3 separate regions of the Homo sapiens genome follow, and all the other regions are linked to region 2. Evidence: fine-mapped expression QTL. A gene starts in region 2. Each other region holds a variant in brackets. All regions are shown on one strand. Distances are between the middles of the regions. Region 1 overlaps LBH (LBH regulator of Wnt signaling pathway). Region 2 holds the start of LBH (LBH regulator of Wnt signaling pathway). Region 3 overlaps LBH (LBH regulator of Wnt signaling pathway).

Region 1 (10,582 bases), 19 kb before region 2:
CAGTGACACACCCCAGAGCTAGAGAGAGAAGCCTCTGTCTGGGATGCTGGGCTCCCAGAATCAGGCACTTGGCACCTTCATGGCCATCTCTTCCCACCTCTCCATTTGGTAGATGAGCAACTCAAGGCCCCAGAGGGGTCAGGAGACCTGCCTAAGGTCACACAGCTTGTTCATGGCACAAGAAAGGAAAGCAAAACTTTGAGTGGGTGGAGACACATTTGAAGAGATCTGGGGGGCTGCCTGGTCCTGCCTGCACCTTGATCCAGATGGGGACAGGCCCACGGCAGCAGACAGGAGTCACCCATTACCAGGACATAGAAGAAAGGCCCTTTTACAAACTCAGGCCTTCCCAACTTCTGTGGTGCTCTGAGGATACCCGGTCTTATTGCAACCCAACCCCATGCAGTGCTGCCCCAGCCAAGTCACACTCTCACCACATCACAGGCCACGTGGGGCTTCCAGGAATCACAGGCCTCAGTGAAGCCTTCCCAATACCTGCAAACGAGTGATTATTAACCATTTATCCAATAAGACCTATTGCTGGGGATTAAGCCTTAAGCCAGCTGCACAACCAGGCATCATTAAAGACTTAACGAGGCTCATAAAAGGTATCATAATGGCAGCCAGGAGGAAAACAAGTCCAGGGAGGGGATGGGCCAGTGTGGGTCACGGAGGCAGAGGGGGACACGGACCCCGACTCTGGGCTCTGTCTTCCTGACCAGGTTGGCCCAGAAGTTCTGCCCTCAGACGGCGCTGTGCCCAGACGTGCATGTGCCGAGCGAGGAGCGCCACGTGGGCTTTTTGGGTGCGTCCTCATTTCTTGGGTGGGGCCAGAGCCCCCCATGGGCTGTGAGGACACAAGGCGCCCTCCAAGCATGAGCTCTGAGAGTGGGTGAGAGGGACCCCGATGGAGGGAAGCCCACTACAGGTCACGAAGCTCTTTCAGATGTCAGCTCGTTCAGGGCTCACTGCCACTCTAGGAATAGTAAGACCCGGGACTCTGTGGGTCACATGGCAGAGCCAGGATTCAAACCTACATCTGCTGTTTTCAGTGCCTGAGCCTTCTGGAAAATGGATTAGGCTGCTGCTGGGTCTCCACCCCATTTCACAGATGGAAAACTGAGCAGGGAGGGAGAGTAAGACTCTGGGCCTTCACTGCCCAGGCAGCTGTGAGGGCCCCAGCCCAGGAGGTGAGCTTCCCAGTCCCAATGCTTGTTTTAAACCTTCAGGATCCAAGACAGCGCCATAAGCTGTCAAGAGGAGAGGGGGACCTGCCCTGTGAAGAGCCTGGCCCTGCCTCCACCCTCTGACCTCACTGCCAGGATTGTGCCTACCTGTGCCAGGGCCACATTGTCAGGGCTGGGAGAGTGAAAACCCAATTCTAACTATGACAGCCTAAGCCAAGGAAAAGCAAAAGGCATGACAAGCAGGGCAGGCCCAGCAAAAGGAGGAGGGGGGGAGGGGGAGGAGGAGGAGGAAGAGAGGAGGAAGAGGACGAAGAGGAGGAGAGGGGTGGGAAGCATTGGATTTCACTTCAAGCTGGAAACAGGTCTTTCATTAAAATAAGGAAAAAAATCTAATGATGATGATGATGGATGAAATTTTTCCTGAGCAGAATCTCAAACCTCACAATAATTCTAGTTACCACCCCCCAACTTATCCACAGTTTTGCTTTTCTTGGTTTCAGTTACCCACGGTCAACTGCAATCCCAAGATAGGTAGGTACGGTACAATAAGATATTGTGAGACAGAGACAGAGACAGAGAGAGACCACATTCACATAGCTTTTGTTGCAGTATAGTGTTATAATTGTTCTATTTTATTGTTAGCTATCATTGTTAATCTCACATTGAGTCTAATTTATAAATTAACCTTTATCACAGGTATGGATGTATAGGATAAAACATAGCATATGTGGGTTTGGTATTATCTGTGGTTTCAGGCAACCACTGTGTGTCCTGGAACGTATCCCCCAGAGATAACGGGGACTACTGTAACCCTATTTTGTGGATAAGAAACCTGAAGCACAGAGACGGTATGTGACTTGCTCAAAGCCACGCACCTGGGAAGCAGCTGAACTGGGATCCAAACTCAGACCTGTAGGACTTCAAATGAAGCGTTCACTTGATAGCATGGGTTAAGCCACACAACCCAGGTGCTCACTATGTCCTTGACCACCATTGTATAACTCCGGTCAAGTCCTCTCAACCCCAAACACCTCAGTTTCTCCTTTTGAGACATGAGGTGACCTTCTTGTCTCACTAGATGGGTACAAGTTCTTGGCAAATATAAAGATGATAAAATACTTTGAGGACATAAGCAAAATTGAAACTATAATGTCCTCTTTGGAGCAGTTTCAAAAGAACTACAGTAAGCATCCAATCTCCAAGCAAGAGGGAGTCATATGAACACAGTAATTAAAATAATTCCAAACAGCGCCATTCATACCGAGAGCTCCACAATTAAGTCTTTTAAGACCTTGCAAGAGGTCTGAGAATTGAACTTCTGATACTGCTTAGCTGCCAGAGGACTTTGCTCCCTGAATTGCTCGAAGCAAGCACTGTTTAAATTTTTTTGTTTGTTTGTTTACAAAGCCTATTAATTGTATTTTTAAAAATTACTACAATAATCGAACCCTTCCATCAGAGATCTTATTTTATTATCAGATTATACCCATTTGGGCCTCAAAATTGTAGCTCTCTCCAAACACAAAAAGTACCCAGAACCAACAGCTTCTGGTTTCCTTACAGACAGACAGAAAGCCTTGCAAAGTGCTGCTGAGTAATTTGCCAGCACAATCTTATCTCTGACAGCTGCTTCAGAGGCTGACCCCAAGGAGGTCAACATTTTTCCACTAAGTCATGCTTTTTAATCATCTAGGCAGCAGAAAAATGAGAGGTTGCAACTGCAATTTGACGGGTGGGGTAGGCAGTGGAAAAAAGGACTTGAGTCAGACTTGCCAAGCACATGACAGGTAGGGGTTGAGGCGGCAGGCCAGGCCGGCATGCTGCCTGCCTGCAGGAACTGGCAGGGAGTAAAGAACTGCCCCTGTTCCCAAAAGAAACTGCTTCTGGTTAAACCTCTTTCCCCAAAGTGCTCCTTCTCTCTGTACTACAGAAAGGCAAAAACAAACACAAATCATTTTCCCTTCTCTCTGCAGCTCTCAGAGGCATTTCTCACCCTCAGCCCAGGGTAGGGCAGGTCTAGAAGAATCCACCCCCAGCTGTGATTCTCCCAGCCCTACACCTTCCTCCCTCTGCCAGCCCTGGACTCCACATCCAGCAGCCACATTGGGCTGCCAAAGCTGATGGCTGAAATGAATCCAATGGACACCAAGTGTGTTAGTCCATTCTCATGCTACTATGAAGAAATCCCCAAGACTGGGTAATTTATAAAGGAAAGAGGTTTTTTTTTTTTTTGAGACGGAGTCTCGCTCTGTCACCCAGGCTGGAGTGCAGTGGCA[C/T]GATCTCTGCTCACTGCAAGCTCCGCCTCCTGGGTTCACGCCATTCTCCTGCCTCAGCCTCCTGAGTAGCTTCGACGACAGGCGCCCGCCACCACGCCCGGCTAATTTTTTGTATTTTTAGTAGAGACGATGGTTCACCATGTTAGCCAGTATGGTCTCAATCTCCTGACCTCATGATCCGCCCGCCCTGGCCTCCCAAAGTGCTGGGATTACAGGCATGAGCCACTGCACCTGGCCTAAAGGAAAGAGGTTTAATTGCCTCACGGTTCCACATGGCTAGGAAGGCCTCAGGAAACTTACAATCATGGTGGAAGCGGAAGCAAACACATCCTTCTTCACAAGGTGGCAGGAGAGAGAAGTGCCGAGCAAAGGGAGAAAAGCCCCTTATAAAACCATCTGATCTTATGAGATCTCACTTACTATCATGATGAGAATGGCATGAGAGTAACCGCCCCCATGATTCAATTACCTCCTACCAGGTCCCTCCCATGAGACAAGGGGATTATGGGAACTACAATTCAAGATAAGATCTGGGTGGGGACACGGCCAAGCCATATCACCAAGTTCCATCCTTTGCAAATGGAATGAAGCCTTGACATTTACACACACCATGAATCTCCCAGGTCTTGCATTCTCCACTGTGTAGAAAAGTAAGCACCATTGTTCATCTCAGAAGCTCACCCTCAGGCCCAGGATTCTCTGCTCCAACAGCCTCTGCTGTTGGTCGGCCAAACAAACGCCCTGGGCTTCCCTGAAACATCTTGCTGCCTTCATCATCCTCATACTAAATCATCTATCCAACAAAGCAGCCACTCACCACACAGGGCCATTTAAAGTTACATTAAATTGATGTTTATATTATATCACATATAAATTTCTGTTAATAAAAATAAAATAAAAATTTTAGCCACCTTTCTTATTTTTTATTAGTTTTTTTTTTTTTTTTTTCTTGAGATAGGGTCTTGTTTTGTCACCCAGACTAGAGTGCAATGGCACAATCTCAGCTCACTGTAGCCTCAACCTTCCAGGATCAAGTGATCCTCCCACTTCAGCCTCCCAAAGTGCTGGGATTACAGGCATGAGCCACCATGCCTGGCCATGGTGATGGTGAATTTTACAGGGGACACCTCTTCGGAGGCATCCTTTGCCTGGTGGCCTCCAGTCCCAACAGGCCGTGGCATTTTGGGAACTCAAATGAATTCACTTGAAAGGTCAAGGGAGCTTCAAGGCTTCGTAGCAGGAAGAGATGGTCTGTAAGATACTGGAATTTCTGGCTGTATAGATCAGTGCTGTCCAAAAGAATGTTCTGCATATGGAAATGTTCTCTATCTGCGCTGTCCAGTACAGTAGCCACTTGCCATGTGTGACTATGGAGCACTTGAAAGGTGGCTAAAATTGGCCAGGCACGGGTGGCTCATGCCTGTAATCCTAGCACTTTGTGGGGCTGAGGTGGGAGGATTGCCTGAGCCTGGAAGGTTAAGGCTGCAATGAGCAGAGATTGTGCCATTGCACTCCAGCCTGGGTGACGAAACAAGACCCTTTCTCAAAAAAAAAAAAAAAAAAAAAATTCTACTGACAATAAAAAATAAGAATGGTGGCTAAAGTGTTATTTTTTATTTAATTTTTATTAATAGAAATTTATATTATATACTATAAATATCAATTTAATGTAACCTTAAATGGCCCTGTGTGGCGAGTGGCTGCCTCGTTGGATTGATGATTTAGTATGCGGACGATGAAGGCAGCAGGATGTTCCTGGGAATCCCAGGGCGTTTGTTTGACCGACCAACAGTGGAGGCTGTTGGACCAGAGAATCCTGGGCCTGAGGGTGAGCTTCTGGAGACCAGGAATTCCTCAGCAGGCTTCTTGCTTAGGCATAAAAGTTGCCGGTGAGCCAGTTCCCATTTCACCCTTGGAGGGGAACTGAAAGGCAACACCAGGGCTTCAAAGGCCCCAAATTTAGGGACCGGGCTATCAACTGTCTGCCTCCATGCCAGGTGACCTAAACCTGGCTGCCCCTGGGGTGGGAGAGGAGAGAGATGCCTGGCACCTGGCATGGAAAATGTGAGCGCTCCTGGTCAGAGCCACCCTCCCCTGAGTGTGCATCTCTCAGCCATCATCTGACAAACAACCCAAGCTGGCCACAAAGAGGCCGAGGGCTCTGCAAAGAGCCGAGAGATGCTAATAGGGAAAGCGGACACCAGCAGGTAGAGGAGATGAAAGGTGGTTAGCAGGACACAAAGGGCTAATGACCAGCTCTGCAAGCTGAGACCTCAGGAGCCTGGACATCTTGCTCTTTTTTGCAAAGGTGGAAAGAGGAAAGAGGAAGGCCGGGGGTGGAGAGGGAGGGGAGCGAGCCTGAGATACATAACCAGGCTAGCTCCCTAAGGCACTGTGGACAAAACCACACAGTAAGCTTCTACCCTCTCTTGTTGCAGAGAAGTAAGAACAATCAGCCCAAACCCGCTCAGGAAAATTGCTCTTCCCACAGGCAGACCACAGAGTCCGAAGGATCTGGCTTTTTCCTCGCCTCCATCTTTTATTATCGCTATGACCCTGGTCACGTCATTTTATCGCCTCTGAGCCTCAGCTGCCTCCCGAGTAAAATGAGAAAATCATTTCCACTTTACGGTATGGTTGGCAAGGTCACAGTGCTGTGCCTTGAGAGCCAGCACAGTGCCTGACAGGCTCATCGAAGCGGTGGCCTATTCTCCTCCTCTACTCCTCTATAATTTGGGTCAGTGCTAATGCTGATCTTGCAGGGCTTTGGAGAGAATCAAACACAGGTATGTGTGAACATGCCCTGTAAACTCTACCTTCCTAATGATGGTTCTTACTAGGTAAAGCTGGGGTCCCCCAGCAGCATTTAGAGTGAGGAACCAAGGGGTCAACAGCTGTGGCTTGGGACAGGAGCAAATACGCAGCACTCCTGGGCTTGTGCCCACAAATCCTAGGCCGAGTTCTTAGGAGAAATGGCTGCAACTTCATTCATCACTTCCCTCCCTGTGGCTCTGTTTCCCCAGGGCGTGGGTTAGGACCGGGGGAATGAAAACCATGCCCTTGTCACTACCCCGCCCCCAACCAGAGGCCTTCCTCTTCTTCTACCTCCTCCTTTCACTTACTCCAGGGGCCTGCCCCTCAGCTTCCCAACGTCTGGATTTCTTACTTCTCCTGGAGAACAACAATGAATTGCCTTGTGTGTTCCTTCCTTCCTACGATGGGCTGGCTTATAACAATGGGCAGATCTCTACCAGCATCCTGCTCTGCCAAGGGATGAATGAACAAGCAGCAGCTAATTCAAATAAAAAACCCACCTGTTCTTTGCCCCCTAACAATGTGTGAAGGCAAGAAATTCCGTCTTTGAAATACTTGCCTCCTGCTATTTTATTATCATCATTATTATTATTTGCATTTTACTGGCTTTTCCACGTGAAATGTGGCTAATAAGAACAGAAAGAATTGTAGCAAAGGGGCAGCAGGGCTACTAACTAGATGCAGGGAAGGAAGAATATTCTCCAGTCTCTACTCAGAGACTGTCCATCTTTAAGACTCTCATCTTCCTTAAATCTCCCCTGGACTGGGGTTACAGAACATCCACCTCACTCTGTTCTGCCTTGCCCTGGTGCCTCTAATCCTATAGAGGACTTAAGCAAAGATTTGGGGCTTATAACAACTGCTAGACCTCCTTCCTTTGGATCAAAGATGCTTAAGCCTCCAGCCTTGAAACTTAAAAGAAAAGGAAATCCTTTGGATAAACACCATCTTTCATAAACATCTCTCAAACACACACCCATCCTGCGAGTCAGGAGTTCCAAATTCTAATTAATTGCACTAATTTCTACTGCTAACTCTGGGCCCAGTGGAATGAGGAGGCTTTTGGAATGTTAGAGAACTTTTTTCTCCGGGGCAGTGAGAAAAGACTTGTTATCAGGCACAGATGACTTCAAATATTCACGACTTTTTGACTGTATCATCATTACCTTCTGGAAAGAAGACTGGCCCCCTGTCACCTCCAGGCATCTGTGGGTGGCACATCCGTCTCTCTATCCTCCCTCCACTAGTACTACCCAATGTCCCATGGTCACACCTCTCTCAGCTGCCATTTCTAACTATCCCCGCATTCTTTTTTTGGAAACACAAATCTTGAATATTTAGCCTGTCCCATTGCCTTCCATTTCTTGTTTGGGTTCCCTTCCTAACCCCCACCACGTAGCTTCCAAAAACATCCCTGGATGGAAACAAATCTCGAAGGCCTTCCTTGCAGCCCTGCCCCACGGCCTTTACTCCACTTTCATTCCGTCTCTACCCATTCTACAGTGCACTACCAGGACGACTCACTTTGTCCTCCACAAAAAATTTTTTTGCCCCACGCAAGACGTCTTCCTTGATAGTAGCTCCCATAAAAGAAGCTTGGAGATTTTAGTTGATCACAACTGCAGCATTGAGGCTAACAACTGAAGCAAATAGGGCTATATTCCTAGAGGTATATGCCTTTCAATGAAACCATCTACACTAACAGAGAGCTGATGGACCTGCTACCCTCTCATCAGGCATATTCTATTTAGCCTAGGGCAGCCATTCTCCAAGCTCAACTGCCAAGATCCTTTCAGTGAGGGAGCCTCCACAGAGGTAACATATTTTCATAGTAATACTAAGATGTCGTTTGCCTTTTTCAGTGTTAACACTTGCACTAAGGGTATAGAAAGCAACAGTGGAAGAAACTGCTGGCACCTTGGCGAGAATTAACATAGTGGCAGCAAACCATACTTGGCATCATCAATTGTTCGCCAGCTCACCCTCACGATTAAAACGAAAGCAAGCAAACAAAAAAAATTAATGCCCTTGATGAAGTGGTAAAAAGTAATTTATATTAAATATTGACTCAACCACATGTCACTTATGTATGTGGCACAGTGAAATGGACAGTTAGCCTACAACATTTCTGCTGCTGACGGAAGTACAACAGCTGTCTTGAGGAAAGCAGTCATGTGACAGAGTTGCCAGCTGAACTAGCCGCTCATGCCACGGAGCACCATTCTTACTTGAAAGAATGACCAACAAATTGTAGTTATTCCAACTTGGGTATTTGGCAGGCATTTTCTCAAAAATGGACAAAGTGACAAAGTGAGCCTGTCACTTCAAGGAAAATAACAGTATTTGTCACCAATGATAAAAATAGAGCTTTCAAGTGAAAATTAGAATTTTGAAAAAGTTGTATCAGCCACCATGAGCCTGACAGCTTCCTAATGCTTGAGATCAGTAGAGACATTAAGAAATGTGATTTTATGATATTGTATAATGAAATGAGTCAACATTTTGAAGACCTGCATAACTTGGTGAACCTATATTTTCCAAATGATCAGAACATTACACTAAGCATGGGTAAAAGATGCACTCAAAGTGCAAAATAGACTAATGAATTTTAGTGTACAAAAAGGTCATTGATAAGATGTCAGATATCACATTGCCACTAACATTTAAGAAACTACCACTTGTTGGCTGGGCACAGTGTTTCATGTCTATAATCCCAGCACTTTGGGAGGCTGAGGTGGGAGGACTGCTGGAGGCCGGGATTTCAAGACAAGCCTGGGCAACATAGTGAGACCCCATCTCTACAATTAAAAAAAAATAGCCAGGCATGGTGGCACATATCTATAGTCATAGGGACTTGGGGAGGCTGAGGCAGGAGGATCACTTGAGTCCAGGAGTTGGAGGCTGCAGTGAGCTATGACCATGCCACTGCACTCTAGCCTGGGTGACAGAGCAAAACGCTGAAAGAAAGAAAGAAAGGAGGGAGGGAGGGAGGGAGGGAGTGAGTGAGGAAGGAAAGAAAAAGAAAGAAAGAAAGAGAAAGAAGGAAGGAAAAAAGAGAAAGAGAGAAAGAAAGAGGAAAAAAACTAGTGAAGTACCAAAGAAACAAATCTGCATAGGCTAGATATCCTTCATTGACTTCAACCAACAACCAACACATACTGCAACAGATTGACTGGAGAAGCACATGAGAGTCTAGCCTAGTCTTCTATTAAACTAGACTTTAAACAGCCATGCAAAAACGTAAAACAATGCCTCTCCTCTCATTAAACATTTTCTGTTTTGGAAAATATATTTTTTACTAAAAACTGTTATTTACATTAACATGTAACAGTTTTGTTACTCTAAATGAATAAGTAAAAATTTTGAAAATTGTTCTAATTTCTGAAACAGTAAATATCAAAAGACATAATCAAAACAAAAGACATAATCATGAACAGAAGCTCTTTGGGTAGTCCTAAAATAAGTTTTAAGAGTGTGAAAGGGACCGAGACCAAAAGGTTTGAGAATAGTTGGCCTGGAGAAATAATCCTCAGTAAGATGACTATGGGCCAGGTGCAGTGGCTCACGCCTATAATCCCAGCACTTTAGGAGGTAAGGCGGGCAGATCACTTGAGGTCAAGAGTTTGAGACCAGCCTGGCCAACATGGCAAAACCTCATTTCTACTAAAAACACAAAAATTAGCCAGGCGTGGTGGTGCACGCCTGTGATTCCAGCTACTTGGGAGGCTGAGGCATGAGAATCCCTTGAACCCGGAAGGCGGAGGTTGCAGTGAGCTGGGATGGCACCACTGCATCCTGGGTGACGGAGTGAGATTGTGTCTCAAGGGAAAAAAAAAAAAAAAAGACTATGTAAGTCAAGGTTGAAAAACAACATATTTTAAAACTGGTAAAGATTTGAGGGGAACATAAAAGGTGCCTTCTGATATCTGAAAGGCTGATAGGTAGGGAAAGAACAGGTTTTTGTTGTTGCTTTTGTTTTTTAAACTCCAACGGGCACATCTTAGGATTAGGATGGTGGATTTCATGTCATTATTCGACTTTTAAAAAACACAATAAGGATTAGTTCTCTCACTTATACACATGGAAATCAGGCCCAAATAGGTGATGTGAGTTGCCTGAGATGACATAGGTAGCAGCAAAGCCAAGATTAGAAACCAGTTATCCGGATTCTTAAGTCTGTAATCCCTCTGTGCTGAGAGGTTCTGGACTCTGTGTCACAGTGTCCAAAGAATATCTAGGTAACCCGATGTCAGGCTACTGTAGAGGACATTCCTTATCAAGGTGATAGGACCAAGCTCAAAGCTG
Region 2 (10,582 bases):
GGCACAGAGGCCAGCACAGCAGGTTGCACAGGGAAAGTGCCCCTAAATGTTGCTTGGTTAAATACTACAATCTCCCTTTCCTCTTCACCAGGCAACCAAGAGACCTTTCTGAAATCAGAAAAGCTGTGAAAAATTGTGACCAGAGTGCTCTGAAGTTCCAAGTAAGATATTTTGGAACTGGGGAGTGGTCCCCACCAAGGTAGCAGAAACAGATTTCCTGGGAGGGGGCTCTGAGAACTGGGCCCTCAGTCCAGCACCACAAGGGAAGATGTGTGGATCCTTTGCTCAGGCAGTGCTGAGATGTGTCAGGCACCCAGAGGTGATTTTATTTTCCTGCTGCCCTTGCAGCCCCAGGTTGGCCTTCCTCCCCCAGCTCCTTCCTCCCTCACCACCTGCCCTGAGTCTCAGGTCCAGCAGAATGGCCTGAAGGACTCGAAGCATTGAGAAAACGGCCCTATAGGGCCTGGCCCTTTATCCTGGGATGTATTTAAAAGGAAAATATGAAAAGCACACACAAGATGAACAGATGACTGCATTTGGAAAGGTTCTGTGATGGAAATCTAAAACCCAGAACCGAAAGAGAACCTCACCTGTAACCACAAAGAGATTCATTCTGACTCAGGGGCTTGGAAACTGCTACCCAAAACCCCCTGGCTGGTGGGCCAGGAAACTTCTACCCCTCCCACCAGGTTGAGGGGCCCTCAATTGTCTTCCTCAGACCCACTCTGGGGGAGGAGGGTAGAAAAGTCAAACGTAGCAAAGAGAGTTCCCCCTTGCTCCACACACCCCCTTCAAGCTAATGGCTACTTATTTCAAGACAGGCCTGCCAATATAGACAACACAAAGGGGCCTCCTTAGCCTCCCAAGCATGTCTGAAGTTAAGTGACCCTGCCTGAACTTTTAGCTTGGTTCTATCTGATTACTTTCCCTCCATGGCACCCACCCTGGCTCCCTGGCTTTCTATTTGATTTTTTTTTTTTTTTAATTTACAAAATAAATGTCCCTGGAACAGTTCTAAGGAATGACCAGCCAGAGTCAACCTAGACCCTAGCGGAACCAAGCCATGGTGTGGACACACAATACATCAGAAGAACAAGGCTCTGGGGTTAGACAGACCCAAGTCACTGACTCAGGCTGAGCCATTTCCTCATCTGTGAACAGGGTGAGGATCCCCGCCTGGGAGCTGTGGTAAGATGTGAGCAAGGCAGCGTCTGTAGAGTGCTTGGCGTGCAGTGGGCATACCTTCATGTCTGTAGCACGGACCCATGGACCCATCACACTCCCTTTCGACTTCCCTGGGCTGGCCATCCTACACAACTTCCCTAGCTCCAAGGTCTTCCTTAAGAAGAGACTCCTCCCTCCCCCCAGTTTAACAACATAGGAACTCTCCTCCAAAACCCCAAACCAGCTCACAGCCCAGAGGGAACTGCAGGTGCTCCATTGCTCCCACCCCCAACCCAGGGGCAGTAGAGAGGCAGCAGGGCAAGCCAGAGAGAGGGCTGGGGTAAGAGTCCAGAGGGCTCACTCTGGTCCCTTTTTGTGATCCTTGTGCATTTTGGATCCACCAGACAGGATGATCTCCAAGCAAGATCCCAGCAATAGCATCCCTGAGCTAGCCTCCCTTTGGGGAAAATATCTTCCTCTCTAAGTGGTTTGAATGTTAACTCTGAATCAACAGGTCAATAATCAACCCAAGGAAGAAAGCAGCATTGGACATGGCTATCCCCACCAGACCACCCTTCTGCAGAAGCCCCCGACAGCAATGCTTCTACTACCCCAGGCATGGCTGGGAAGGAAAGTTCTGGTCTCAATCGACTAAACAAATCATTTCCTCCTTTGCTGCGGTGAATGGCAAAGTTCACAGAGCCAGTAGGGTCAATTCATCACAATGGCTAATGCTTGCTGAGCCCTTATCTGTCCCAGACACTAGGAATGCTTCCTACACATCCACTTGTCATGGTGAATCTTTACCACAATCTTAGGAGATAAGGACGATTGTTGCCCCATTTTACAGATGAAGAAACTGAGGCTTACTGGCATTAGGGGACTCTGCCACAGTCCCACAGCTCTTATATGTGGCACTGGGATGCAAAACCAAGTCTGTCCTCACCCCCAGCAAAAACCACTAGGCTCTAGAGAGTCAGAGGGGAGCCAGGACTTACTCACCTGGTAGGAAAGGCCATCCTTGCGGGGGCTGAGGCCGATCTCCTCCATGGGCTGGGTGTTCATCATCACCTCAGTCATCTTGGCCGATCTCAGATAGTCGGGGCTGCCAAGAAACCCAGACCAAAAGTCAACAAACACACGCGCTTTCACATTCCTAACTCTTCATGCATTCACTGCTGTGGGATCAGGGGACTGTCTGGAGACAGGAAGAGAGGTGTTCAAAACAGAACTTGCAGCAAAACAAGCTCACACCCTGAGGAAGCGCCTTGCAAGCCCACAGCCCCAGGGCTCAGCCGCAACAGACAAAGCCCATTGTCTGCAGACCTCTCTGGCAAACCTCTTCCCTCCTCTCCTGTACTCTAGTCCCCACTGGCACAGAGGGACCCTGAATGTTTCTTTAAATGACAGAACCAGAGAAACCAAAACAGTAGGTAGCTGAGTCCATCTGTCTATATTAAAACCAATTCAACCACATCTCCCTTCACTTCTCCAACTAAGAATAAAAATAATCCTCACATGAACTTTCCAAAGGGGAACTCTATATATTATTAATACACAATAACAATAACAGGTCAACTGGAGGGAAACAAAGTCCAATCATACAGCTTTCCTAAATTTGTCTCTCTGGTGCTCCTTTTGGCAAAATGTTCCACTTAAAGCCCCAAGGGGTCAGCTTTTCTGCAAGTTTCACATCTGCCATCCATCCCCTTTCTCTAGCCCCAGACACAGCAGCTGCATGCTCACAGCTTGAAAAACATCCCCTGGATTAAAAGCCTTAAGGATACCCGACTCTGACTGCAAAGGAAATTTCCAGAGGGGCCAAGCTGGCCCACCAATGGCTGACATGTGAAAGTGCCTTGTACTCTCTAAGCAGGATACGAATATTCCCTTATCCTTGCACAAACTCTGGGCACATACAGGATCCCGTGCACATAATGCTGAACATAAGCACCAAATACAGGTACCTGCTACACAGCACCCAATGCTTTCCACCATCGTGCCTGTGCACATGGTTTAAAACAAAAATATGGGGGAGTCTTTTGAGGGACAGTATCTAAGGAAACAGGGGTACCAGATGCCTCTTCAATTGTATGGTTACTACATAGATAAGAAATGACACTGGATTTAGAAACAGAAGCAATAGGTTCTAGGCTCTGCCCCTCAAGAACTGTGTGATCTTGAACAGGTCCTGTAACTTCTCTGAGCCACAAGTGTCCTGTTTGTCTGTTACTCTGATGCTAATAGTGCATACCTCACAGTTAGGTTAAGGGCTAATGTCTGCATAAAAGCATTGCAAGCTGCAAAGTGCTAATCGATGAAATAAACTTAAACCTTAATTTCTCATAATATTCTTAATGGGTCCAAACACCCACCTTGGCAAATTTTGAGCAGCCAAAGGCACAAAGCCTCCAACAGCCTTCAAAGCTTCACCTATAATAAGGCACCTAGCTGCTCACACACCACGGGAGAGGCAAGGGAGGGGCACCCACAAGAAGGGTACACAAGCCTCGGGGTGGGGGAACTTGAACTGTTGAGAGAGGGAAGTTCAGTCCCCTCTCTAAACACTGCCAGGCTGGGACGGATGGGGGCAGGGAGACTAACAGAAGATGCGGGGCTTTGCGGCAAGTTTAGGTTCGGGAGCTGGGCCCTGCAAAGGCAGTTTCCTCCCGGGTCTTGGAAAGGCTGCTGGCGACCTCCAAAGAAAGGAGCCAGAAGAGCGCACGCAGGGTGAAGAGTCTGACGTAGGGGCGGCTCTTCCTCGCTCGGGGCTGTGGCGCCGGCCCGAAAAGTTGAAGCGAGAAGCATGAACTTTCCGCTTCTTGGGCCAGGCCGGACCCCGCCGCGGCTTGCGCCGGTTTTCCCTTCGCTCAGCGCCTGCCGGAGACTCGGGGCCGAGCTCCCCACGTCCGCACCTGAGAGCGCGCTCCGGGGCTGCCGGCGCTCGCCCCCGGCCGCTTCTCCTCTAACCCAGAGCAGGAAGGAAGAAACTGCCAGCAAGGAAGTCCCAGCAGTCAGGGGCCTGCCTCTCTCTGCATCCCTCCCGGCTCCGATCCCCAGTCCGGGGCAAACCTCCGACGCCCCGCGCCCGGCCCGGGCTCCTTCCCCTTCAGCACGGCGAAGGCGGCTCCTCCCAGTCCCGGCCCCCACCAATGTGCGTCGGTTTTTAGGGGCGGTGGAGAGGGCAGGGGTTGAGAGGCTGCAGCGCGTGCCCTGCTGCTTGTGGCTTTAGTGGGGTTACGTGTGGGGAGAGCGTTTCCCGCCCCCCACCCCCCCGGAGCTCTGCAAACCCTGCGGCCGCACCAGCTCAGCCCCGCTGCTGCCGGCCTCGACGTTGAGACTTGCATGCAAACAAAAAGAAAAAGAGGAGGGGCCCGGGAAGAGCAGGAGCCCCCCTGCGCCAAGTGGGGCGCGCGCCTCCTGCAGCTCTCCGCATAGGGTGGTTTCATTGGGGGGGATTCACACGTGACCCCTGGCTCCCCCGCCAACCAATACAAACCCTCCGGCCGTCACTTAGGTGAGGGCTCCGAGTTCACGTCCTTTGTCTGGATGTTCTCAGCACCCCCTCCCCCCACCCCCACCTTTGCAACCTTGACGTTGACTCCTGCACGGGCTCGGGCGGCGGGTTAGCGCTGAGCGCCCGCGCCGCCGGCTGCCCTCGCACCCGGAGCCGGCACGAAGCAGGCGCCCGGGCCCGCAGCCACCGCCGCGAGACAGACGCCCGCCGCAGGCGCAGGGTACTCACCAGTGAATGGGGAAATATATAGACATGAAGTCCTAGGGCAGGCTGACACACGCCCCTGTGATTTAAAAACGGTCCCTGCGTCCCGAGTGAGGATGACACGGGCGCAGACGGGCACGGCAGGCGGCCGAGTGCGGACACCGGGCGCTCGCCGTCCGCCTTCCCAGGACAGCCCCACGGCTAGCGACGTCGGCAAGGTGGACACAACTCCCCGCTCTCCACTGAGCACTCAGCCCCACAAAGAGCCCGGGAAGCCGTATTTATAGGGGCGGGGGCGGGGCTTGGCCCCGAGAGGCCCCGCCCTCCCTCGCCCACTCCTGGAATAACGTCACCAAAATCATGAATGGCTTCAGCGCTCGCAGCTCCGGCGGGCGGCGGCTCGGGGGCGCGCTCGGCTCTGCTCCCGGGGCCGTGGTTCGCTGCGGCTGCGAGCCCGGCCCCCTCCCGCCGCTCTCCCACGCGCACACGCGCTCACTCGCACCGGCCCGGACTCCGCGTCCGCGCCGCTTCCCGCTCACAGCCCCCTCCACGCACACCCCGAACTCCAGCGCGGCGGAGGTGGGCGCAAGGAGGGCGCGGGGGCCGCTCGGGACATGACAGCTCGGCGGCTGCTCTGCGCCGGGGTAGGGCACCCGCCACTCCTCCACCCCAGCCGCCCGGCGCCAGCGCCCTCCTTCCCATCCACTGGCTGTCCCCAGCCCACCTCGGACCCCTCTGAAGCGTTTGTTCCCCATACTAGGCCTCTCTCTGGAATCCTCGCCCGCAGCCTTGCGATCAGCGAGGGGAAACAAGAGCATGGTTAAAGAAGAAGCGGTGGGAAGGTGGCAGAGACGCGGAGCCGGGGGACCGAGTGCCCACGGGGCGCGTTGGCTTGCGAAGGGCTGGTCTGCAGCCCTGAGTTCCGTGGAAGGTTTTATTTGTGGGAGCAAGGATGTGGTGTCGTCCTGGGTAGGATTTTTCCATTGGAGACACACATACGCCCGGTCTGCAGCGGGGGCAGAAGGTGTGGGCGGGCGGTGTGCACGCCGCCCCCCATCCTTGACTCCCACGTCTTCTCCGAGGAGTCGCTCATGACAGCAGAAACAAAGAGCTTTAGCCGAACGCCTCCCACACTGCCCAGGAATTGCAGCTCTGGGCGTCTGTCCAGGCAGTCAAAGCTGCGCAGCCCCCCAGAGCCACATGATGGGAGTCTCACTCGGGACCCAGCGCTGCCGCTCTGTGGCCTCCGCTTCAATCACGCCTGTAAAATGGCTTTAGAACCCTCACCTACCTGTGTATAGGGGCTGAGGAAAGGGGGCGCGGGGAGATCAAAAACTAAGCAAAATTAAATTGGCTTTGAAGTGAATCAGCTTTTTAAAAGAAAGGCAGTGAGTGTATTGAATCCGTATATATGTACTTGAAAGTGGAAACGCATAGCTTATCTCAGGCAAAAGGATGACAGAATTAATGGCGAAGGTTCGACAGGGGTAGGACCCTGAAGGAAGCCGTGAGAGAAGACCCTCATAATTTTCATCAGTCCCCGCAAAACCAGCCCAAACAAAAATTATAAGAATTGATGAGAATAATTTATTTAAAAATAACTGGGCTATTTTCAATCACTTATATGCTTATATGTACAACCTGAGTTAAAATAGTGTGCTTCCTATGAAAACACAGCTTCATGACAAGCCCCTGGCTGCCCCCTCCAACCAGAGAAATTCCCCCACCTCCCAAGCTAAACGCATTCTCTTCCTCTGGGGGTGTTGCCTGATGGAGGGGCTAAACGGGAGATGCTGCAGGGATGGGGTTATTGTTGATGTCCTGCACAGAGGGTGGGGAAGCTTCTCAGTGTCACTAGCCAGGTGTGGCACATTGTCATCTAGGCAGCCACAGGAGACGCCAATGCTTGGAGAGCTAGTTTCCAGGCTGAGACTTCCAGGCACTCAGAGGAAAATGTCTGGGCTAGACCCCGGGTGGGCAGGATGAAGCCTTCTGCCACTTCTTCCCAGTAGCAATCTCTGGTGAGGCTGGGATCAAAGACTGTTGCGCCACTTTTACACATAACAGACACACTTTATGTGTTTGTGATTATTGCCATGTGAAGCTTTCAAAACTCAGAAAGCTATTTCCCTCCCTCCCCATTTTCCCAAATATCTAAATGTCAAAATGGCCTCATTTTGGAGAAGAGGGTGGGGAGTAAGGCCTCCACCAGCTGTTATCTGGCCTCTGGAAAAATCCTCTACATTGGAGTGCATTGAGGGAATTACCTGAGGCCTACTCTTTGGGAAACTTATTAATGCCCATTTTAGCTAAAGTTCATCTCTGTCAGTAAGTTAAAATAGAAATAAGCCTGGGGTTGTGATCCCCAGTCTGCATTTTCTGTTTCTCCTCTGGAATCACAGTGACACATCCATTCATTTGAAAATATGGGAGGTGGCTGGGTGCGGTGGCTCACGCCTGGTAATCCCAGCACTTTGGGAGGCTGAGGCAGGTGGATCACCTGAGGTCAGGAGCTCAAGACCAATCTGACCAACACGGTGAAACCCCGTCTCTACTAAAAATACAAAAATTAGCTGGGCGTGGTAGTGGGTGCCTATAATCCCAGCTACTTGGGAGTCTGAGGCAGGAGAATCGCTTGAACCTGGGAGGCAGAGGTTGCAGTAGGCCGAAATTGTGCACTCCAGCCTGGGCAACAAAAGTGTGACTCCGTCTCAAAAAAATAAAATAAAATAAAATAAAATAAATAAAATAAAATATGGGAGGCGTGGGGCTAAGCTTTGATGCAACCATAACTAGCATGCCATTTCTCAGTTATACTAGTCTATATGATGCCTTGCAGGTTTTTTTTTTTTTTTTGAAGCATTTCATTGTCTTGGCTTTCAAAAGAATGTGATAAGGTTAACATAGCACAACTTATGGTCCTCAGTTCACAGATATGTAAACTGAGGCCGAAATAAATTAGGAGGCTTGCCAAAGATCACACAGCCGGAAAGTGGTTGAGCTGGGCCTGGAACTCAGAGGTTGTAGGCATACTCAGCTTCCCCTTCTGTTAACATAGCTCTGGCTGACTGCCTTTCCTTCATATCTCTAAAGATACAGAGTATTTCAACATGCACACTGACCATTTCTTCCCAATATCCTATGAGATAGGTTTCTGTCCCTACTGCCTTTGAATAAATGAAGAAACAGAAACACAAGCGAATGAAGTTACTTAGAGCCCCAGAACCTTAGAGCTGAACGAGACCTTCCAAATCACCTTGTCCCAGTCTCCTCGTTTTACAGGTGAGAAGACACCTAAGAGATTAAATGGCATGTCCAAGGTCACCAGGCTATTAAGTGGTATAGATGGAACCTAACGCAGGTCTTCAGACTGCTGGTCAGATGTTCTTTCCACTTTAACACTGCGTCTTGCACTGCATTTGCCAAGAAGTCAGCAGCAAAGGTCAAACACAACGTCTGGACTCTGTAAACCACCACAGTCCATCACCAACATTTATTGAACATCTACTAGATGCAGATCAGTGAACTAATTACCCAGTCAGAGCCTCTGCACTCCCTCCCTTCTCCCGTCTTTGTCTTTGGAGACTAAAGAGTTGAATTGCAATTCTGCTTCAATAGAATCCAGGTGTAATCAGAATTGCCTTGCTTTCTGACATTACATACATCCATTTTGCCAGCACCTTCTCTTACCTACCTAAAATACAAATTAAAAAAAAAATAAAGGTAATGAGCTTAAGATATTATTAGAGTTATCTCAGCTGCAAGGATGCTGTGTATGCAGGACAGGTAGCGAGTTCATTCATCTAGTTAAAAAAAAAGTCTCCATATAAATTCATTTAGCAGCCGGGTGCAGTGGGTCATACCTATAATCTCAGCACTTCAGGGGGCTGAGGCAGAAGGATTGCTTGAGCTCAGGAGTTTGAGACCAGCCTGGGCAACACGGTGCAACCCTGACTCTACAAAAACTAAAAAATTAGCCGGGCATGGCAGCGCACACTTGTAGTCCCAGCTTCTCAGGAGGCTGAGGTGGGAGGATCGCTTGAGCCCCCGGAGGCAGAGGTTGTAGTGAGCCATGATCACGTCACTGCACTCCAGCCTGGGCAACAGAGCAAGACCCTGTCTCAAAGAAAAAGATCATTAAGCAACACATTCCCACTTCTTATCTCCCTCTGGCTTGCAAAAAGACAGTATTGCATTTATTTTGCCTAATGATGGTGAAGCTGGTATTTTGGTTACTAATAAGGGACCTTACAAAGTAGCTATTTGACCCTGGGGAGGAAAATAGAAGAAGGGAAGGGGCCACACTTGCTGAGATACCCTGGTATTTCTTACTACACTTATGCCTGACAACAATCTTAGACAGAGGCAGATTGCCCCCACTTCATAGACAAAGAAACAGAAGCTCTGATAAGTTAACTACCTTGGCCGTGGCCACGTGGCTCTCAAATGGCTGAACCAAAATGTGACTCTGGGCAGGGTGCGGTGGCTCATGCCTATAATCCCAGCAGTTTGGGAGGCCTAGGTGGGCAGATCACTTGAGGTCAGGAGTTCGAGACCAGCCTGGCCAACATGGTAAAACGCCACCTCTACTAAAAATACAGAAATTAGCCAGGCGTTGTAGTGGGTGTCTGTAACCCCAACTACTTGGGAGGCTGAGAGGCAGAAGAATCGCTTGAACCCAGGAGACGGAGGTTGCAGTGAGCCGAGATCGCGCCACTACATTCCAGCCTGGGGGACAGAGTGAGATTCCATCTAAAAAAAAAAAAAAAAAACCCAAAATGTGACTCTGAGGCTTGCTGTTTCCAGAGCTGATGTTTTCCCCACCATACCACACTTACCATGCCTCTGTGGTTTTGTTTGTTTTCACAGCTACACTATGAACTGAATACAAAACCTCTGGTTCCAATAGCAAAGACCACTGGGATCCATCCAGGAGGGCAGGGCTGGCAGGATAAACAATTTTCTCACCCTGGGAATCTGGGAGCTTCTTAAAGATAGTCAAAGGCTTGGGGTTAAAAAAAGACAGTGAGTAGGAGAAGGGAAGTTTCTAGCCAATTTTTCGGTGAAACTCATTTGCGTACATAAGAAATCTAAAAGGCAAGAATGTGTGTGGGTTGAAGTGAGAATGAAATGAGATAATGTTATGAAAACACTTGGTAAATTGGAAAGCACTGAGCAGACGTAGGGCTTGTTTTTAAGGTATTTGAGAAAAAGAGGGGGTTTAGCAGAGCTGATTTCATCTGCTTCAGTTTTTTACTTATTGCCATCACAAACTGCCCCATTTTCCTCCTGGAGTCCCTTGACTGACATGTCTAGCTTTTAGGGAGCAGACATTAGAGGCAAGTAGCGACGCTCTGCCTGGTGGCCACTCTTGCAGTCACAGAGTCCAAGCATCTTCTCTCGCCGCCATGAGTTCCTCTGTCTTTGGTGCCTCCCAGGAAGTGTCCAGCTGGGTACTGGCCACGCAGAGAATGAATGAGGCCCGAGAATGTGAACCTCCTATCTTGGTCATCAGTGAATTAGCAGTCAACAACACAAAGCAACCCGAACCCACCAGACAAAATCCTCCAGCCTTTGACTTACTTTGCTGTAAGTTCTCAGGCAAGTGGGTTGACCTCTCTGGGTCTCAGACATAGAAAGCAATAAAAGCAGGCAATAGAAGTCTCTCTTTTAGGCCTCAGGGTCTAGTAAGGCTGA
Region 3 (10,582 bases), 31 kb before region 2:
AGAGTGAAAGCTCCCTGAGGCCTCCACAGAAGCCAAGCAGATATCAGCACCATGCCTGTACAGCCTGCAGAACCGTGAGCCAATTAAAATTTCGTTGCTTTATAAATTATCCAGTCTCAGGTATTTCTTTACAGCAATGCAAGAATGGCCTAATACGGTAACATCTGATGTAGCTCTGCCTTCCACACCCTTCACTGGTGTGTGGGAGCATGTACCAGCTGGCAGTGCTGGGGAACCATGGGGAGCCTGTGTCTTTGGTCTGGAGAGAAAGGTTTGGAGAACAGCGGGAAGTGCTTTTGGGTCAGCACAGGGCCTGGGGTCATAGCCTACCGTAGCCAAAGGAGAGGCTTGTAAGGCTGCTGGGGCTTTCTGCACAGGCCCTGCCTGGGACAATCCTTTGGGTAAGAACTGCTGGGGCCTTCTTTTAAGATGAGAGTCCCCCTGGGAGAGGTGGTGCATTCAGACCTGAAGGTCTTGGCATGAGTGATTTTTTAAATACCACCTTGTGCAAGAGATCGGGGGAGGAAAAACTCTGCAGGCAAGTGGCCCCATTGCTGGCGCCAGCCCAAGTGACCTTGGGCAGGAAAAGTGCCCTCTAATTAGCAATCAGGAAATCAAGGCACAGCATGGCGCCAGGCAGCATGACCCCAGCTGTAGCCTGGTGACACTGCAGCCCTCTAGACGGCATGCCCTTGCCCCTGCACGGTAGGGCTGGGACCCTGTGGGTTATTTTTTACCTGATGTCACTATTGTTGGTTGTCTGCTAGCTGCTGCAGTGGGTGCCAGCAGTGACAAACATGCAGTGAGGGTTTCCTGTGTAGCTTCCGCCTCCTTCCCCATGCACAGTTCCTCCCTCCTCCAGGGCTCGGCAGCGATTTGAAGGCTACCCAGAGCCTAATCCTGGCCTTGGAGGAGACCAAGGACATAGTGGCCTTCCCAGGCTTGTCCCCTACACACTGACCACACAGTCTCCACCCTTGGGTGTGCCAGCCCCATTTCCTCTGCAGAGAGATGTATTAAGCTACTTTTTCTAGTTGCCTCTCTCCCACTGCCATGACTCCACTAAGTAAAAGTACTGCTTTCTAGAAAGCCAGATTCCCCAGATCAGTGGCTCTCAAACTGTTTTGACTGTGACCCACAGAAAGAAAAATATTTTTTTTCATGACCAAGTACACACATTTATCCACATGTAGGGATGAAACAAAAAAAATTCAGGGAATAACATTTATTCTTCCTATATCTGCTGTACTCTGATTTTTCCTCTTCTATTGTCGTCTTTTCTATTTGTTTTCTTTCTTTTTTAAAAAATTCTGGTTGCAGCCCACAAATGGATTACTTTCACAACCCCATAATGAGTCATGATTTAGCTTGAAAAATACTGTGCCAGATAACTTTCCAGAATGATTTCTCTTTTCCAAATGGAGGACGGGCACTAGAGTTTATTGAGTCCCTGTGAATTAGGCACTGTCCTGGTTTTGAGTGATATCCATCTTCTTGAAAAGGAGACTGAGGCTCAGGCAGGCTGAGCCCATTTCCTTCTAGCATAGAAGTGGAGGATCAGGGATTCCAGAGGTGTGCTGCTGCAGGCTTGCACTGGCTCCCATCTCATCCAGTCCCACAAAATCAGCCATGGTGGGAGCATTTACACCATGGAAATTGGCAAACACTATGAATCAGGGCCTTTTTTTTTTTTTTTTTTTTTTTAAATCTCAGAGGGCTGGTTGTTACACATTTACCAGCACACCATTTGTTCTAATTCTACTGTTTTCCAAAGTCAGTATATTTTGAAGTCCTCTGACCTCAGCTTCCTCATCTGTAAAGTAACATTAAAAATGTCCATTTTGTAGGAAAAATTTATATTCATTGAGCCCATTCTGGTAAGTATGGGGGAACAATGACTGGAAGGAAACCAAAATGCAAATAACTGATATGTTACCATGATGGGATTTGAAAGATGAAGTCCCTAAATTTCACCATCTTTTATAATTTCCATCATTGCTAAATGTACTTTGTGCTAAATATACTTTTCATTATATATACGAAAACCCACACTTTGCAAGAAGTGTGATGAGAATTAGAAGAAATGGAGGTAAACCAGTGCTCTGCAATTGGCAGCCGCCAATAATAGAAAAGTGTGAATTCACAGTTTTCTGACTGAAAACGGCAAAGGAAATATTGCAAATGAATTGCATGTCAAAGTAGGACCTTTTATCCAGGTAAACAGAGAGAAGGGAGTAGTCTAATGAATATTCTGATTCAAGACTATACTGATGATCATATCACACACAAATCACTAATTTTTGAAATTCTAGAAGAAGGGATCTATAGCCTCAAATTTATCTAGTCCTAGGTCAGTCATGGCTCCCTCCGTCTGAGAGATACCTCTAGCTAGTGGCGCCAAGAGAAGACTGATCCTTAGGAAGCTGTGGGCTCCAACTGCTGGATGGTGGCTTTAGCCTGACTGCAACCCCTTCCATTCACTCCCTCATCCCTGTTCTCTGAGGCCATGCGGGAAAAGTCTATCATCATCATTATCACAGTTGTGATGATAAAGGCTGCATTTGCTTCCTATTGTAGCTGTTAGCAAATTACCACAAACCTAGTGGTTTACAACAAATTTATTATCTTACAGTTCTGGAGGTCAGAAGTCCAAAATAGCTGTTACTAGGATAAAATCAAAGTGTTGGCAGGGCTCCATTCCTCTGGAGGCTCTAGGGAGAATCATGGCCTTGCCTTTTGCCGTTTCTAGAGGTGCCCGCATTCCTTGACTGGCAGCCTCTTTCTCTGTCTTCAAAGCCAGCAGCATTTCATCTTCACATCTCTCTGACTCACTCTCCTGCCCCCTTCTTTCATTATGGGGACCTTTGTGATTAGATTGGGCTCAAATATAATCCAGGATCTCCCCAAGCCAAGGTCAGCTGATTGGCAAACTTCATTCCCCTTTGCCATGTAACATTACATATTCACAGTTCCTCAGATGAGGACATGGACATCTGTGGGGGTGGAAGACATTATTCTGTCTCCCACAATGGCTAACATTTCTTTCTTTTTTTTTTTTTTTTGAGATGGAGTCTCACTCTGTCGCCCAGGCTGGAGTGCAGTGGCATGATCTCGGCTCATTGCAAGCTCTGCCTCCCGGGTTCTCGCCATTCTCCTGCCTCAGCCTCCCGAGTAGCTGGGACTACAGGCACCTGCCACCCCGCCCGGCTAATTTTTTGTATTTTTAGTAGAGATGGGGTTTCACCGCGTTAGCCAGGATGGTCTCGATCTTCTGACCTCGTGATCCGCCCACCTCGGCCTCCCAAAGTGCTGAGATTACAGGCGTGAGCCACTGTGCCCAGCCAACATTTCTTTTTCTTTTCTTTTTTCTTTTTTTTTTGAGATGGAGTTTCATTCTTGTTGCCCAGGCTGGAGTGCAATGACACGATCTTGGCTCACCACAACCTCCGCCTCCCGGGTTCAAGTGATTCTCCTGCCTCAGCCTCCCGAGTAGCTGGGATTACAGGCATGCACCACCACACCTGGCTAATTTTGTATTTTTAGTAGAGATGGGGTTTCTCCATGTTGGTCAGGCTGGTCTGGAACTCCTGACCTCAGGTGATCCGCCCGGCTCAGCCTCTCAAAGTGCTGGGATTAGAGACTTGAGCCATCGTGGCCGGCCTCACAATGGTTAACATTTCTTGAGCACTTATTATGTGTCTAGCAAAGTTCCAAGCATGTTACTTGTAATATGCATTTAGGTGTCGCCACAACCCTATGAGTTAGGTACTCGTTGTACAAATGAGGAAAGTGAGGCATAGAAAAGAAAAGTAACTTGCTCAAGGTCACACAACTAGTAAGAGGAAGGGCTCAGCTACAGATCCAGGGGTCTGATCTCGGAGCCAATGCTCTTAGCGACAATCACCCTTCAGTAATTTAAGGACAGATGTACAGACTGAATTCTACCTAATCTAATCCTCCTCTGATGATCCAGAAGTCCTTTCCGGATGTGACAGTGCCTCAGGTCCCTCAACATCGATTGCCGTAGGCCACCAGTTGGGCAACTTTAAATGGGCTGACCAATGGATTTCAGGGGCTGGGATGCCTGGTGAGCCTGTGTCCTTCCCTGAAGGCTTCTCACAATGGGCACCAGTGATTCTGAAACTCACCTTCATGAGGACCCATGAGGCACTGCTCTGTGGTGTTTGCTCTCAGCTTTCTCTTTTTCTCTACTCCAGACATACTAGCTTCATAGACATTCCTCAAAAAGATGGAGACAATCTCTACCCCAGGGCCTTTGCACTTGCTGTCTCCTCACCTAGAATCTCTTCCCAGTCTAGTCAAAGCTCAACTGTCATTTCAAAGAGTTTTCTGCCCAAGGATCCTCTCTTTAAAGAGGAGTCAGGCAGAGGTATAGACCCTCTCTGATGAGAGACCTCCCTCTCTTCCCTCTCCAATCTTTGGTGGGCAGAGGCATTACAGTTCCCTTCTCCTTGCCTTTCCCCTCTCAAGGTGATGAAGAAAAGGAGGCAGACAGAAGGAGTTGAATCTTGTCTTCACTTTGAAGCTACCTTTGTATCTGGTGTCCACAAAGGACCCAAAGCAAAAAGCAGCAGAGAGAAGGCAGAGTTAGTTCCTTAGCAACTAGGCCCTCAAAAGAGAGACAGAAAATATCCTGACTTGTGGAACACCTACTGGGTGCTCAATCTGCACACCCCTATGCGGGAGTTATTAGTCTTATATCCATTTTACAGACAAGAACACTGAGGATCCTAGACATTAACAAAATGGCCCCACAGCACCTATGGAGGGGCTGCACAGGACTCGAATGCAAGTCAGCTCGAATAACACAGCAAAGTCAGCCAGGTGTCACCCAATCCTTCTCCTTCAGGGAAGAGGAGGCAACTTGGGGTGAAGCAGGAGGGTATTGAAGCAACTGGCTAACCATGAAAAAGAATAACGAAACTTTTTTCCAAACAAATAATTATTTTGTTTAAAAGTCACATGGAGGCAGTGGGAGACAGAAGTGAAGACTCATCTTTCATCACCAGGGGCTATTTTCCTATGGATATCCAATTGTTCCAGTACCACTTGTTGAAAAGACTTCCTTCCTCCACTGAGCTGCCTTGGCACCTTTGTCAAAAATCTATTAACCACACATCTGTGGGTCTATTTCTGGACTCTATTCTGTTCCACTGATCTATTTGTCAATCTTGATGCCAACACCACACTGTTTTGATGACTGTAGCTTTGTATTAAGTTTTTGAAACTGAGAACTGAGAGTCCTCCAACTTTAGTTTCCTTTTTCAAAGTTGTTTTGGCTAGTCTGGGTTCTTTCCATTTCCATAGGAGTTTCAGAATTAGATCATCAATGTCTACAAAACAGCTTGCTGAGGTTTTGATTGTGTTGAGTCTATAGATCAATTTGGAGAGAATTGACATTTTAACATTGAGTCTTCAGATCCATGAACATGGTAGAGCTTTCATTGATGTAGGGATTCTTCGATTTCTCTCAGCAGTGTTTTGCAGTTTTCATTGTTTTGGAGGTTTTGCATATTTTGCATCAGAGTTACTCCTAAATAGTTTATATTTTTTTATGTTAATGTAAATTGCATTTTAAATGTCAAGGTTCTGTTATTTTTTTTTTTTTTTTGAGTTCTGGGATACATGTGCAGAATGTGCAGGTCTGTTACATAGGTATACATGTGCCATGGTGGTTTGCTGCACCTGTCAACCCGTCATCTAGGTTTTAAGCCCTGCATGCATTAGGTATTTGTCCTAATGCTCTCCTTCCCCTTACCCCCCACCCCCCGACAGGCCCCAGTGTGTGATGTTCCCCTCCCTGTGTCCATGTGTTCTTTGTTCAACTCCCACTTATGAGTGAGAACATGCAGTGTTTGTTTTTTTTGTCGGTGTTACCAACATATAGAAATGCAGTCATTTTGAATATTGAGCTTTGATCCTGCAACCATGTTAAACTCATTTATTAGTTCTAGTAGCTTTTTTGTGTAGATTTCATAGGATTTCCTACACAGATGATGTCATCTGCAAATAAAGACAGTTTTCTGCAGGGGTGTGTTCAAGGAGGCTGCATTCTAATAAATTCCTCTTCAGGCTGCTGGAGAAAAATAAAGGGGCAATCCATATGAGGAGGGTAAAGTCCGGCCAGTTATCCTTGGGGCAGCAGATCCATAGATCTAGTTGTTTCACTAAGGCTAGTGTTAAAATGGGTCATTATTCTGTAAATCCTGGTAGACACCTTCAGCACAAACCACTGGATTCTCTACACTTACCAAGGTTAAGGAACCCGGAGGAGGGCTGGGTGAAGGCAAAAATAGCCTTGGGTTAGAAAAATGCCCCCAAATCCCTTCTACAAACCACCATTCTCTCACTCTGACCTCCACAAAGCCTCCTTCCTGGTCTCTAGGTTTTTCATCTTGCCCCCTCCAATCCCATCTCCATTGAGCCAGGTTGTATTAAAATGTGAAACAGACCATGCTAGGTCCTTCCCTTAGAATAAAATCCAAACTCCTAGCCAGGACTGAGTAGCCCTCTTGCATGCTTTCCTCTTCTACCACTCCACCCGCCAAGCCCTTGCCAAGCTGTTCTCCCTGTTGGAATCATTTTCCAATGCCCCCAACTCCCCTCTGCTCCCTGCCACCTAGTACCTGGCTAACTTCTCCTTGTCACTGCTTCCAAAGACCTTCCTGACCCTCCCAACTGATGTTCACACTCAGGGCATCCCAGTTTGATCCTGCCTTGCACTCACCATATTCGTCATTTAATTTTTCACCAAGGCAGGGCCATGAGAACCAGGGCCATTGCCATTTGTGACCTTGACCTCTTACTAATGCCTGCCAAGCAGTAGGTGCTCAGTAAATGCTTTGCATGATAGCCTGAGCTTGCCACATGCCCACCCACTCACCCTCCAGCCCCTGTGAATGACCTTCAGATATGTCTTGGGTTTTTCTTCCTTTAGAAGGGTAGTTCACACCTTGGCTGTGGGTTAAATCTCCCCAGTGAATTCTCCCCAGACAAGCCATCAGGTGAGCTACATAAGGAGCCTCTCTTGGGACTCCCCCAGCTCAGCCTCCTGCAGGACTTCTTCTTGCTCCTGAGCTCACTCCATTCCAACGGAACAGGAAGGGAAAAAGGAAACCAGACCAGAGTGGAAAGCATTTTCAAACTTTATTTACAACTGTCACAGTGACAAAAAGTAGTTTGGAAAAAAAAAAATGCTAGTTTCTCCCTGAGCCTCAAAAAAGAACAGATAGAAGTTACAGGAGGTTCATCTCACAACAGGCATTTTTACTGAAATACTAGGAATTTTTTCAATACAATCAGTTAGAAATACACACAAATTACTTGAAAAAAAAAAAAAGAGGAGGCCAGATAGGAGCTCAGCCACTTGTCCAAGAGCAGCTGGGTCCCCCCAGCAGGCTCCACCGCTGAGGGTCCTGACATTAGCTGTCAGCCCCTGGCCTGCTCAGACTGCAAACGGTCATACAAAGTGGTCTAGGGACCAGCAAAAATAATAAACCACCCCCATAAACAGACACATACACAAAGTAGATTTGTTACGCAGTTTACAAGCATGTTCCCATCACACAGCAAGACCAGGACAGGTGATTCAGGGTAGCAGATAAGGGAAGACACCAAAACACAGGAATTGAAAAGGCAAGACCCCCGTCCACAAGGGGAGGCGAGGGAATGAGAGTATGGATGAACCACTCTCTGCAGCCAAAACAGAACGAAGCGGGGAGCAAGAGAGAGGAAAG[C/T]CCCTCTCGGTGCAGGCTGCCGGCCTCTCCCACTTCTGCGAGGAGTTGGAAGAAGTTATTGCCATTGATGTGTGTCACACAGGCAGACAACAGAGGGAGGAAGCAAGGGGTGCCGGCGACCATTGGCTTCCCAGAACGGAATTCCGCGGACTGCTGTGTCCACAGCGCACCCTCGTCCTCCTGCCCCGGCATCCCCAGAGCCACAATGACCTTGAGGTATTAAATACAGCTATATACACACGTCCAGAACTGAGGGTCAACCTGGACTGACTGGAGACCTGAGGGGACATGCTGCGTGCCTTGGTTGGCCGAGTTTAGCTCAAGGAAGGCTCTGAGTCCACCTCTTGGCCACACGGTACTGCTCTCGGCGGACTGAAGCATTTGTCCTGCAACCTGCTGCTTCAGATGGCTCTTAGCTACAATAAGAAATCCTAAGTCCAAAGGCCAACTTTCTCATACAACTGGTGCCCTTGCAGGAAGCAGTGGGAGGTGGGGAGGGATGAGGACCACTGTTGAGTAAGGACAGCAGAGGTCCCTTGCCATGCCTCCCTTCTGCCCTTGTCCGGGAACAACATGGGGAGAAGCCAGGGATCTCATGACATCCTTTAGTCTCAAACTCGATCCCAAGGTTGCCACGACAGCCTTGTCCCCACCATGCAAGTCACCTCCCCAACAAGACACATAAAAAGCCACGTCTGCTCTCCACTAGGCTCCCACAAGAAAAACAGACCAAGATCCCCCATGGGGCGTGAGTACTGCAGCTGGGCAGACTGGCGGGAATCCATAGGTGAGCTGGGGACCCATGTACCCATGGCTGCTGGGGCTGGGGCAGGGAAGGTGGCGGTGAGGAGAAGGAAGGGCCAGCCTGGAAGACCACGCCCACTCCATCTCGGGAGCAAGTCTTGGAAGGGCAGCAGTTAAGGGAGAGACCTTCGTGCTGAGTGTCCACCCTGGGGCTTCCAACAAGGGCAGGAAGTGCTCTCACTACTCCTAAAAAGTGCTGGGAAGCAAAATGGATATATCAGGGAGAAAAGCTGAAAAGCACTGCCTCTTAAAAACCGATCACACTGGCTATGTGAGCCTACCACAGCTGGGAGCAGAGAGGCCATGGAGTAGAATGGGGTGACCTTTCCTTTCCTGCACTTCACCTCCAGCTGGCTTTGCAGGCAGCCAATTGCTCCTGCTCTCCTTTACTCTCCTCCCTGTCATATAGACCAACACACCTGAAATGAAAGCAAAGGGTGGGGTGGGTGAAACTGGAGAGAGAGATGAAGACTTTGTTTTCTGATGTCCCAGCAGCCAGAGTGAATGTCTGCTGAGCGCATCCTGGCTGCAGTTCTCTGCTCAATGTTTTCTTAAAAACATGTATTTTTTCTTTTGCCTCATGTTTGTTTTCTTACCCCAAATGTTCCTTGCTTGCTTTGCACATGCCCCACCTCCCACCCACCAAGACCCATTGGAATCCCACCACTGCCTCTACTAGGCTGCCTGAGTTCAGATAATGATCTCAAAAACAGCACTCGCTCCCCTCACCCACTAACCCCCTGGCTCTAAGCAGCTTCCTTTCTCAGAGGGCCTTGCAAATTGTCAGAGGGCTCCACTGCTCGGCAAATTTCAAAAAAAAAAAAAGGCAAGAAAAGAAAAGAAAACCAACTCGGTGATCTGCAGGTGCAAAACAGAAGCCTCGTTTGACATTTTCAGAACAATTGCGGCTCACTCTCTTCTTCCGTCATGATGGGAAAAACACAGTTCAGGAACAGATGCTGGCTGGTATGACCCATGGGAGTCCACAGGGACTCTACTGCTCTTTATTTTCTTTCGCTGTCTCTTCGCAGTTATCTTGCTCATCCTCCTGGACCAGGAACTCCTCAGGGGGCCACCGGAGCTCCCCGCTCTCCACCTCCCCTTCTGTGGGTTCCACCACTATGGAGGGCAGACGGTCCTTCAGTTTGCAGCAGCGGTCAAAATCTGACGGGTCTGGGAAGATCTGAAAGAAAAGCAGAGCAGGTGCCTGGTCACGTAGATATTTGAAAAGAGAAATTCCATTCCTTCTTTGCACATCCATGTGGCATACTGGGTGCATGCCATAGGCCAGGGACTGTGCTTTGCACTCGGGAGGCTGTGGAGTATATAAGGTGGGAGCCACGGGAGAATATTCTGGGGCAACATAGGAAACTGTCCCTCAGTCAGACTTCCATTCCAATCCTGAAGCTGAAAGTTTGGGGGCAGTGCCGCTGAGTTTAAAGGTTGATGTGATTCTGTTTGGATTCTGTATTTTATTTGCAGATAAAATCATCCCAAATCATGTTATCCACAGTAAGTCTGGTCTCTCTCTGCAGGAAGTATTTTACTCCAGCAGTACAAAGAATACAACAGGTGCCACAGCATTAAGTACCTCCCGGAATAATTATTGGCACTAAGTGAGCAGGTTACCAGGTGCTATACATATATCACTTCCAACCCACACAGTCATGCTGAAAAACAGGTGTTGCTAATGCTAGCTTAAAGAATCTCAGGCTTGGGAGAGTAGGTGGTCCAAGACCAGACAGCCTAGAAATGAGTGAGGGATGGGATGAGATTGAAAACTGGGTCTGGGCTGGGCCTGGTGGCTCACACCTGTAATCCCAGTGCTTTCGGATGCTGAGGCAGGTGGATCACGAGGTCAGGAGATCGAGACCATCCTGGCTAACATGGTGAAACCTCTCATATGGTAAACTACTAAAAATACAAAAAAAATTAGGCGGGCATGGTGGTGGGCGCCTGTATTCCCAGCTACTCCGGAGACTGAGGCAGAAAATGGTGTGAACCCGGGAGGCGGAGCTTGT

The links. PIP is the estimated chance that this variant, and not a neighbour inherited with it, causes the effect.
Region 1: its variant is the best candidate, but not a certain one, in a credible set for the expression of LBH in whole blood (TOPMed, PIP 0.80).
Region 3: its variant is the best candidate, but not a certain one, in a credible set for the expression of LBH in whole blood (TOPMed, PIP 0.66).

What each region holds. Positions count from the first base shown.
Region 1 is chr2:30,245,499-30,256,080 of GRCh38, reverse strand. The region is part of intron 2 of LBH (LBH regulator of Wnt signaling pathway); the gene reads right to left. Among named protein-coding and RNA genes, the nearest start is that of LBH, 19 kb to the right of the region's middle. The variant C/T (reference allele first, on the strand shown) is at 3,464.
Region 2 is chr2:30,226,092-30,236,673 of GRCh38, reverse strand. It overlaps LBH (LBH regulator of Wnt signaling pathway), which reads right to left and starts at 5,140. Exons shown (of 3, transcript NM_030915.4): 1 at 4,910-5,140; 2 at 2,167-2,269. The coding sequence starts at 4,935. RefSeq lists silencers at 238-445, 4,141-4,200, 4,211-4,410, 4,801-4,890, 5,091-5,640 and 1 more and enhancers at 5,444-5,958, 5,959-6,474.
Region 3 is chr2:30,256,595-30,267,176 of GRCh38, reverse strand. LBH (LBH regulator of Wnt signaling pathway) reads right to left here. Exons shown (of 3, transcript NM_030915.4): 3 at 7,149-9,744. The coding sequence ends at 9,556. Among named protein-coding and RNA genes, the nearest start is that of LBH, 30 kb to the right of the region's middle. RefSeq lists enhancers at 1-572, 573-1,187. The variant C/T (reference allele first, on the strand shown) is at 7,758.